3 linked regions of the Homo sapiens genome follow. The protein of the gene in region 1 purifies or fractionates together with the protein of each later gene. This does not show direct contact. Each region holds a gene or a part of one and is shown in the gene's direction. Other genes may lie near its edges. The genes, in order: NCOA4, RNF10 and PTH2R.

Region 1 (3,652 bases):
TACACGTAAGAAAACAGTCAAAAATATCCATACTTGGTATATATTAGAGGATTTAGACTATTGAGTTTTTGGAGTAAATAAAAGATTGCCTTTTGCTGTGCTGTATAGTGAAAGACTAGATGGAAATCTAATATTTATTAAATAAGCACGACCTCCTTACCCCTAAGTCTGTGAGTCTATATTCCTCACATATGAATTAGGAAGTTAGGTTCCACAAGGGCAAATGGTGCAAGGTCATAGCCCTGATAAATGGCTAAAGGATTCTGTCAGGTCCTGTTCACAGCCTGTCAGCTAAACCTGATAACAATAACCACTGCAATGTGGAGGGCTTACGGTGTGCAGGTGCTAGGCTAAGTGCCGGTAGACATATAATATCTCACTTTAACCTTACTGCAGCCCCTCTGTAGCAACCATCCTTGTCTCCCTTTTTCCTGAGGAAGTTGAGGCCCAGAGAGATTATGTTACTAGCTCAGGGGTCTCAAGCTTGGAGACACAGCCATAACTCAGGTTTGTCAGACTCCAGAGTGACCTCTTAACGGTCATGCTTGCTACTCTGGCTCTTGAACCTGAAACAAATGGTGAATAACTGTTGAAAATGGCCATGTGAACTAGTTACCTCATACAAGTCTCTTTGGATGTAACATTTCGTACAGCTGGCTTAGGCTCATTGTGATTTGAATTCACCCATGGTTGGGGCTCTTCATTTCCGCTCTGAAGGCTTCCTCTTCATCACAGTGCAAGAGGGCAAGCCTTTGCATAGCTCCTTTCTTGGCATCTGGGCTCTGAAAGCTGACAGTGCTCTAACTGCGCCACAGGGAGGAGGAGGGACAGAGAGAGCCAAAGGCAGCAAAGGGGCAAGCATCCTGGGACTTACCATAAAGAAATGAAACAGATTTTCTTCGTGGCTGACAGATGAGTTCTCAAGATGACTTTTGAAGGATAACACTCCTTTTAATTTGAAAAAAATGTGATAACTGTGTGTGGAAAAATCAGTTTTGTAACTTTTAAATCTCATCCTACATTCTGTCTATAGCTGATAAGGGCAAAGTCCAATGTGTGAACTCTTGCTGTAGTCTACTCTTATTGTGTAATATTAATACTTGTGATTGAATTGAGAGGACTTGCTTTAGGAATCTAGTAATACAGTCAGCACTGTATGTATTTGAGTTTGTCTCCCGTATGTTCCGGAATTCTGGAGTTTTGACATTGTGAAGCAACAATTTAATTTTATTGATTCAATTTTACACTGTGCCAGGCATTGTGGCATTCCACACAAATGGTGAGAAGCTAAAAGTGAGAAATTTGGCACAGGTGAAGAAGGCTGGGTAACACATTTGAAAGACTGCTAAACAGGTCTTGCATGACTGGCCTAAGTGCAAAGTGAAGCAGCCCATCACGCTCCAGCTCTCCAAATCGGAGCCGGCATTTCACCCATGTGATACAGGTATTTTTCATAGTCCCTGCAGTGAGTTCCAAGTGCACACTAATGCTTCTGCCTAACACAGGCAGCTTATGGCATGCAAAAGGAGGCTGCAAAGTAACCACTGTTGGTGTGTCCAGGGTTAGAAAAATTTCCACAGGGATTTCTGTGAAATCCAATTAAGGCAGCCCTTTCTTTTTAATAGATGATTATGGAGAAAAGAGACTGACGAAACAAAATCAGCAAGGGGAAGTTAAAAAATTTCCTGAATTGTTCAGTTTCTTGTGGAAACTCTAGTTCCTGAATCTGAGTCTTTTGCTGAGATAGTGTACAGAAAGTTTGTTTTGCTGCTCTTCCCACTTCCCTCAGAATACATTATTTCTGAGGGAAGAACTCACCACTTTTGTCTCTAGCCAGCTTTCAGTTAGGCACCTGGCCCTAAACTTAGTCTTAAAGATGCAGTCAAGGCCTGGCAAAGTTCCTTTGTCTGAAATGGGCAGTCAAGCCACTTGGAGGACTCTACACTGGGTAGGCCACTTTTCACCCCAAAGCTGGCTTCTCCAAGAAAGTCATTGCTTTCAGGACTGTTAGGAAGTTATTTGATATATTGCCTAACATGCCTCCTATTAATGTTTTTTACCCCCTTGTGTCTGTTCCAAACAAATTTAGTTCTTCTAGTTGACAGGTCTCCACATACTTGAGAATGGTAATCATGTCCTCCTGGAGACGTCTCTTATCTAGGCTAAACAGCCTTCCTTCCTGGAGAAGTGTTTCATGGTTTTGAGGCCTCTCTCCCTTTTCTAAGTGTCCTCTTCTAAAGTGTGTTACTCAGAAATAAGTTTTGAATTTAGTCTAATAAACATGGAACAGGCTAATCCTGTGACAAACACTATACTTTTGGTAAATGTAGTCAAATAGTGTGTAAGTTATTTTTTCCCACAGACCCAGCACACTGCGAATTCATAGAGAATTTACTTTCGGTTAAAAATTTCCACCCTTTAAAAAGGAATTATTCTCTTCCTTGCCCTCCCTAATTAAAGTGAAAAAACTTACATTTTGTTTTGTAAAATTGAACAGCTATGTAGAGATTGTTTTGGGATCTGTTTCTGTCACAGCCCCATGTTACCTCCAGCTTTAATGTTTGTCTTGTGTGTTTTCATACAGGTAATTAGGAAAAACAGGGATGTGCCTCTCAAAACTTTACAAACTGGCCTTAGTCTGTCATCCTTTGAGTATTTTGTAAAAAATAATCTTATTATTCAGTTTAATTGTGCTTCTCTTTAGCTAATATTCACTTTTTCCACAGTGATAACATATAGTCTTGCCACAAGTCTTCTGTCATCCCTTTGTGTCTACAGCATTACCTTGACTTGCCAGTTTAGTAAAACAATCCAAAAGGAAATAACTGGTATCACAAGGCTTAGTGAACCTATTCTGAGCTCTAGTAATCACTGCTGTCATTTTCTCAGTGTTTAAAAATCATGTCATTGTTCTTGCAGTAGCTTTTGTCAAGTTTTACGTTATGGCTTTACTGACACTCATGTGTTACAGTCTCATTTTATCATTATATGCTGTTCTTCCCATTTGTGTTTCCTTTCGCTCCTAAACCCAAGCTTCTTAGAGAACTCTGTATTTACCCACACCAATTTCTGTGTCTCCTTTATATGAGAATCATGAAATCATTTTGTCACATATAATCTGTTACATATAATGCACATTCTTTTATATATTATATATTACATATATTCTCTCTATATAAAACATGTATCTCTATATCTGTTATATTCTTTTTTGTTGTTGTTTTGAGACAGAGTTTCACCCTCTTACCCAGGGTGGAGTGCAGGTGCAATCACGGCTCACTGCAGCTGCGAACTCCTGGGCTCAGGTGATCTTCCCATCTCAGCCTGCCAAGTAGCTGGGACTACAGATGCACACCACCACATGTGGCTAATTTTTATATTTTGTAGAGACGGGGTCTGGCTATTTTGCCCAGGCTGGTCCCGAACTCCTGGAATCAAGTGATCCACCCACCTTGGCCTCCCAAAGTACTAGAATTACAGGTGTGAGCCACCGTGCCCGGCCCTATGTTATATTTTTGAGAACTTCCTAGCTGTGAAGTCATTCTTAAGTTCTTCCTAAATAAAAAAAAAAGTTCTACCTAAAAGGGGGAAATTAAAAATTCCGTCTTCTAAACAAAGTGTTCTAAACTTGATTGTTTGCAGCTTATTTTGA
Region 2 (3,652 bases), on another chromosome or scaffold:
TATTTAACTTTTGCTTTCTTTCTATAATACGTTGCAGCCGTATTTGTTCAAATGCCATTACAGGCATAAGAAAGGCTACATAGAATTAGAGCTGTCCAGGCTGAGGTGGAGTTAGCTAAATCCTTCCTACTACTCTGGACCTCTGTCTGAGCATAGTTTGTAAAAACTAGGTTAGTTTCATGTTCTTAGATTTCTGTTCTGGAAGTTTTTTGTATAGTGTTGTTTGTGTCAGATTCTCTTTTATTTTTTTTAACTTTTAAGTTCAGGGGTACAAATGCAGGTTGTTACATGGTAAACCTGTGTCATGGGGGTTTGTTATACAGATTTTCACCCAGGTATTAAGCTTAGTACCCATTGGTTATTTTTCCTGATCCCCTCCCTCCTCCCACTCTCCACCCTCTGATAGGCCTCAGTGTGTGTTCCCCTCTATGTGTCCATGTTTCATCATTTAGCTCCCACTTAGAAGTGAGAACATGTGTGCGATATTTGGTTTTTCTTTTTCTTTCTTTCTTTTTTTTTTTTTTTTTTTTGAGACAGAGTTTTGCTCTCGTTGCCCAGGCTGGAGTGCAGTGGCGTGATCTCGGCTCATCACAACCTCTGCCTCCAAGGTTCAAGTGATTCTCCTGCCTCAGCCTCCTGAGTAGCAGGAATTACAGGCATGCCCCACCATGCCTGGGTTATTTTGTATTTTTAGTAGAGATGGGGTTTCTCCATGTTGGTCAGGGTGGTCTTGAACTTCCAACCTCAGGTGATCCGCCCACCTCAGTCTCCCAAAGTGCTGGGATTACAGGCATGAGCCACCACACCTGGCCGTATGTGTCTTTACAGTAGAATGATTTATATTCCTTTGGCTATATACCCAGTAATGGGATTGCTGGGTGAAATTTTATTTCTGTCTTTAGGTCTTTGAGGAATCACCACACTGTCTTCCACAATGATTGAACTAATTTACACTCCCCAGTGTCAGATTCTAAGCAGATTCCAATCCTTAGTGGGTATTGCATGCTTTTTGCTTCCTGTTTCCCTCAAAGTTGAGATATTTAAGCACCTAATTCCTTCCCATTGGGTCTCATTGCCTTTTAACTTTTGGTCCTGTTGAGAGGCCATTCTAAGCCCTTGCCCTTCAAGCTAAGTGTGTGTCTGGAAACTTAACCTTCTCTGGTGTTCTCTCTGGCCACGTTAGACTCGGGAAGAGGCTCTGTCGGGATTGGCCGGAAGCAGAAGGGAGGTCACTGGTGTTGTGGCTGCTCTGGAACAACTGGTGCTGATGGCTCCCTTGGCGAAGGAGTCTGTTTTTCAACCCAGGAAGGTTAGTGTGTTCCTGTTACTAAGTGGCTGCCGTTCCTCAAATGCTGTCATTGAGCTGGTAGGCATTACTGTGAGATCTAAACCTTCTCAAGAGAAGAGGGGACAATGAGTATTTTCTGTATGCTTGTTATTAGTTCTTTCCCCAGGGGTGTTAAATCAGTGAACACGACAGCTAAGATAAACATCTAGGGAGCTTGGCTCTTAGGTCTGCATTTGCCACATTGCTTTCGGAAAGCAGGAGATATCCTTTCTGTTGACTTAGAGTTTGCTGCAACAGGGTGTGCTGGAGTATCTGTCTGCCTTCGATGAAGAAACCACGGAAGTTTGTTCTCTGGACACTCCTTCTAGACCTCTTGCTCTCCCTCTGGTAGAAGAGGAGGAAGCAGTGTCTGAACCAGAGCCTGAGGGGTTGCCAGAGGCCTGTGATGACTTGGAGTTAGCAGATGACAATCTTAAAGAGGGGACCATTTGCACTGAGTCCAGCCAGCAGGAACCCATCACCAAGTCAGGCTTCACACGCCTCAGCAGCTCTCCTTGTTACTACTTTTACCAAGGTGAGGGTGCCGGAAGAGAGGGCTGGGTTGCCGCAGAGGTGTTTCAGAGGTGACCCGGTGCTCTAAGCAGAGGAGCGCCACTAGATCCTGTGGCTTGGGTGGCTTGAGCCCTTGGGCATGGGGAGGGGTGGGGAGCCTCCTGGGGACTGGCCAAGACTGGTGTGTGATAGAGCCCCTTGTCCTCAGCGGAAGATGGACAGCATATGTTCCTGCACCCTGTGAATGTGCGCTGCCTCGTGCGGGAGTACGGCAGCCTGGAGAGGAGCCCCGAGAAGATCTCAGCAACTGTGGTGGAGATTGCTGGCTACTCCATGTCTGAGGTGAGGCCTTCCTGTAGAAATGGAGGGTCAGGCAGCAGTATTAACCTAATCTCTTTGAGGTAGGCCTAGCCATCCTAAGTTCACAAACCTTCAAGGCCTTTAGTTTTTGTATTTTTAGTCTTTCTGTCAGTGATGGTGCTGTGAATTCTTTGTAAGTGAAGTGTCCCCTCAGCATGCCAGGGTTCTGTTAAATCAGTTAATGCTGTTCCCTGCTTCTCTGGTTCATTGATTGTAGTTTGGGGATATAGATATTTCTTTTATTTAAGATGGAGTTTATTTTTGTTTCTTATCCTCCTTATTGCTTGGGAGAAATGTCACAAATTTGTTGTAAGATTTAAAATTAGACTCTTTGAGTACTATAAATTTTTCATCAAACATATGCAGAAAAAGAATAGAAATGAAAATAAATGGGCTGGATGTGGTAGCTCACACCTGTAATCCCAGCACTTTTGGGAGGCCTACTCAGGCAGATTGCTTGAGGCTAGGAGTTTCAGACCAGCCAGGGCATTTCTACAAAAAATACAAAAAAAAATTAGCTGGGTATGATGATGTGCACCTGTTGTCCCAGCTCCTCAGGAGGCTGAGGCAGAAGGATCACCTGAGCTGGGGAGATCAAGTCTGCAGTGAGCTGGCCTGGGCGGCAGAGCAAGACCATGTCTCAGAAAAAAAAAATTGGGCTTCATTTTCTACTATTTCAGGCCAAGTGTCTTTCAATAGGGAGATCTGCTTTATCTTCCTTCCCAGTTATTTATTCTGTCAGTGGTTCCCAGGTTTTTTTCTGTTCTGTTTTTCTGCCAACAAATAACTTTATCTTCTCTGTTCGTCCCCCTCAGCTGTGGGGCCTTGAAAAAATCAGAAACAGCTGATGGGCTTTAGATTATTTGTTGCTGGACTCAGTTCACTCCTTTGCAGTACAAACCAAAAATAACTGGATTTGGTTGCTTATTCCACCTTGCTGTAGGTTGACAGTTTCTCTTTGGCTTTTCAAAATGAGGATAATTGAGCACTACTGTTTCCAGCCCCAGTGCTGGCTGTGTTATGTATATATTGTTGGATATCGGGGTTAGGACCCCCTGCTTTCAGAGTTAGGCTTGCTTTTGTTGAGTATTGGTCCTTTTTCCAATGTAGGATGTTCGACAGCGTCACAGATATCTCTCTCACTTGCCACTCACCTGTGAGTTCAGCATCTGTGAACTGGCTTTGCAACCTCCTGTGGTCTCTAAGGAAACCCTAGAGATGTTCTCAGGTGAGAATGCCCCTGCTCTGCTTCTCTTTATAGTAGGGTTCAGGGATTCTTGTGGCTAGACACCCAGTGGGGGAGGAAACTTATGGAACTGTATCATGAGTCTTAGTACCTCCTAAACACTTCATCTGTTCATCTAGTCCAGCTGGGCCTACTGTTGTGGGTTTAGCTGCTAATACTGGGAGGAGGTAATGACCATGTTGTCCTGGGTCTACCTCTTTACAACC
Region 3 (3,652 bases), on another chromosome or scaffold:
CCACGAACCCCTCTTTAGGCTTGATTAATTGCTAGAACAGCTCACATAACTCAGAGAAACACTTACGTTTCCTATATATTATTATAAAGGATATTTTAAAGGATACAAATAAACAGCCAGGTGAAGAGACATATAGGGCGAAGTCTGGAAGAGTCTGAAGTGCAGGAGCTTCTGTTCCGGTGGAGTTGGGGTGCACCACCCTTCTGGTAAATGGATGAGTTCTGGTTCACCTTCCTGCAAGCCTCCGTAAATTCAGCTGTCTAGCAGCTCTTTATATCCCATTTTCTTGGCCCTTTTATGGAGGCTTCATTGGATTAGCCTGATTGAAACATGGAAAACGCTTGTTGAGTTTCCCCATTTAGTCTATTAGTATTAGATTACATCCTTTTTGTCCAATCACATTTCTACACCATTGTCCAATCTTAAAAGATCCCATACTGTATAATTCTACTTATATGACATTTATGAAATGACAAAATTATAGAGACAGAAAACAGATTAATGGTTGCCAGGTGTTTGGCATGGTGGAGAGGAGGAGGTGTCACCGTAAGGGACAGAACAAGGAGAACTTTGTGTTGGTGAAATAGTTCTGTACTTGATTACAGTAATGGTTACAAAAATGTACATATGATCAAATGACATAGAACTATAAATATGCGTGTCGCATCAATATTAAATTTCTGGTTTTGATATTTTAGTAAAATTACATAAGATGTAAGCTTTGGAGAATACTGGGTGAAGGGAACCTGGGGCTTTTCTTACACTATTTTCTACTTCTTTTGAATCTATAATTATTTTAAAACAAAATAATTGAAAAGGAATGAACTATTTATACATGTAACGATATCGATGAATATAAAAAACAGTATGTTGATAAAAAAGTATATACTGTAACATGTAATCCTAAGAAGTCTAAGAATAGTCAAGAGGTATATGAAGTATGTGAACAGAGAAAGCTAATTTGTGGTGACAGATATTGGAACAGTGATTTCCTGGGGGTGGATAGTGGGTGTTTTTTTGACTAGCAAGGGGCACAAATGAACTTGGTTTGTCAAAACCTATCAAAATGCTCACTCCAGATCTCTACATTTTATTGCATGCAAATTACAGCTTAAAAAAGTTAAAGAGAATTAGAAATAAGATTCCAAAAATGACATACTATTTCTTTGCCAGTTTATTGGTAAAATAGTCCCATATCATACATGAGCATCTCTTCCCTTGCAGCAAGAATTCTTTGAACGCCTCTATGTAATGTATACCGTTGGCTACTCCATCTCTTTTGGTTCCTTGGCTGTGGCTATTCTCATCATTGGTTACTTCAGGTGAGTGATGCCCATCACTTTTTCCATGAAGGGGCACATTGTCTTTCCTATCCAGAGAAGACATAGCGGTCTCACAATATTTTCCAAATGTTTTCCTCAAATGCAAGTTTTTGAATTCAGCCTAATGTTATTATGTTATTTGACAATTAATTTTTCATGACAAATTCAGGGTTCTTTGTTTAAAAACTTAAAGTATCAAAGTAGTATGAAACCTTTAACCCAATAAGTATGTACTGAAGTATATTTGTTGCAAAGTAAGACAGCATCGAATTGAATGAGTTCCCGAGAGATTTTGGTGCTATTGGACAAAAATTCATCTTAAATAATCTCCCAAATTATTGGATACCAGCACATAAAGAAATAGTATTTATTGCTTTTGTTATGGTTTATTTTTTATCCACTTTAACATGTGTCCAATTCCATTCAACTTAATCGAAATCATTACAAAATTTTGAGCACCAATTCAGTCACCCTTCATATACTGGGATTTCACATCCCCAGATTCAACAGACTGTGGATGGAAAATACTCAGAAAAAAAAGTTTGGTTGTGTTCATACTGAACATTTACATACTTATTTTTTGGGTCATTTTTCTCTAAACAATACAGTATAACATCTATTTACATAGCATTCACATTGTATTTGGTATTATAAGTAATCTAGGGATGATTTAAAGTAACAAGATGATGTACATAGGTTATGTGCAAATACTGCACTATATCATATAAAGGACTTGAGTATCTGCAGATTTTGGAATTTGTGTGGAGTCTCGAACCAGTCCCTGCTGGAGGGGAGCAGGCTGGTTGGTGGTGGCAGCAGTCGCACTGGGTGTTTCCCCCATTTTTAATTTTATCCAAATTTAAATACTGAATATTTCTCTCCGTAGACGATTGCATTGCACTAGGAACTATATCCACATGCACTTATTTGTGTCTTTCATGCTGAGAGCTACAAGCATCTTTGTCAAAGACAGAGTAGTCCATGCTCACATAGGAGTAAAGGAGCTGGAGTCCCTAATAATGCAGGATGACCCACAAAATTCCATTGAGGCAACTTCTGTGGACAAATCACAATATGTAAGTGTTTTCACCATTTTCTCTCATTACTAATTTGTATAACACTACAAATAAGTACAATTTTACAGTCCACTAAACATGTTAACTTGCTTTTACTTATCTCTGAACTAACTAAAATGGATTATCAATTTGTATAGTGATGTTTTCTCCCTCAATTCTGTCCTTTCATGTCTAATCAATCATTTTATTAAAAGTTCTTGGGTTTTTTCCTCAAGAATATTCTGGAATGGAAACTGCAAAATGCACAAGATTGGAATGGTATTTGGCATAGGCACCACAGCAACTGTCATGGGGCTCACCACTTTCGAAAGTAAAAATCCCATCAGCAAAACCAGAAGCTTGCAATTTAAAAGCCCATGATATTTAGTCCCTTTATTGAGTACTCGAAGACTTGTTCCAATATAAAATTTTATGTTACTTGATTCTGCTCTTGAATGTCCTGGTGGTAGTAAATAGATTGATCCAATAATTCACTCAATTAGATCATTGAAGCAATATATCTGAAATTAGGTATAGTAGATTGATTGTCTTGATGGTGTGAATTAATACCCTGTCTGGATCTGTGCCTTTGCCCTGTAACTTTATAGTCCCTGCTGATTCTGATTCTGGGCTGGCACTGAGACTTGCTTTCCCCAACAGAAGGAAGTGGACGCAATAGTGTAGCAGTTGAGAGTAGACCTCTACTCAGTGAGCCTAGCCGAGACAAGCCTAGCCCAGATCAGCCGAACTACCCAGCCCATCCACAGATTTCTAAGATATGTTAAATGTTTATTGTTATAAGTCACTAACTTTGGGGGCAGCTTGTTTTGCAGCAATAGCTGCATAAAAGACCAAAATAAAATAAATTCAAGCTAAAAATATGGGTAACATTTTCTTCTTTATACTTTTCTATATGTTCCTAATTTTCTGTGATGGTCGTGTATTATTTTTATAAAGTGAAAAAATTGAGAAAAGGTGATTTTTTTGGTAACTTCTTAAAGAAAAAACTTATTTTAAAAATAGAATCAAGTTCATAGTCTTGAAAAATGATGCATTAAAATAACTGTTTTGGCCTCTCAACAGTTTTGACTTTACTGTGTAAAGGAGACATATTAGCCTGAAAAAGAAACTGAAGACTTGTTTTTTAGTGGTCTAATGTTGGCATCCAGTACAACAAAGTGTTCTAATATGATGAAATTCTGGTTTATTTGTAATAGATCGGGTGCAAGATTGCTGTTGTGATGTTTATTTACTTCCTGGCTACAAATTATTATT

The links.
Region 2: the proteins of NCOA4 (region 1) and RNF10 purify together in Homo sapiens (affinity purification with mass spectrometry; one large-scale study listed by BioGRID and IntAct). This does not show direct contact.
Region 3: the proteins of NCOA4 (region 1) and PTH2R purify together in Homo sapiens (co-immunoprecipitation; one large-scale study listed by IntAct). This does not show direct contact.

Annotation. Positions count from the first base shown.
Region 1 is NC_000010.11:46,017,115-46,020,766, reverse strand, and holds part of NCOA4 (nuclear receptor coactivator 4), read left to right. Parts: intron 1-767; exon of another isoform or gene 768-1,444; intron 1,445-3,652. UniProt on the Homo sapiens protein: Cargo receptor for the autophagic turnover of the iron-binding ferritin complex, playing a central role in iron homeostasis. Acts as an adapter for delivery of ferritin to lysosomes and autophagic degradation of ferritin, a process named ferritinophagy.
Region 2 is NC_000012.12:120,561,762-120,565,413, forward strand, and holds part of RNF10 (E3 ubiquitin-protein ligase RNF10), read left to right. Parts: intron 1-1,183; coding exon 1,184-1,309; intron 1,310-1,570; coding exon of another isoform or gene 1,571-1,585; coding exon 1,586-1,862; intron 1,863-2,048; coding exon 2,049-2,182; intron 2,183-3,310; coding exon 3,311-3,428; intron 3,429-3,652. UniProt on the Homo sapiens protein: E3 ubiquitin-protein ligase that catalyzes monoubiquitination of 40S ribosomal proteins RPS2/us5 and RPS3/us3 in response to ribosome stalling.
Region 3 is NC_000002.12:208,441,140-208,444,791, forward strand, and holds part of PTH2R (parathyroid hormone 2 receptor isoform 1 precursor), read left to right. Parts: intron 1-1,224; coding exon 1,225-1,322; intron 1,323-2,208; coding exon 2,209-2,398; intron 2,399-3,594; coding exon 3,595-3,652. UniProt on the Homo sapiens protein: This is a specific receptor for parathyroid hormone. The activity of this receptor is mediated by G proteins which activate adenylyl cyclase. PTH2R may be responsible for PTH effects in a number of physiological systems.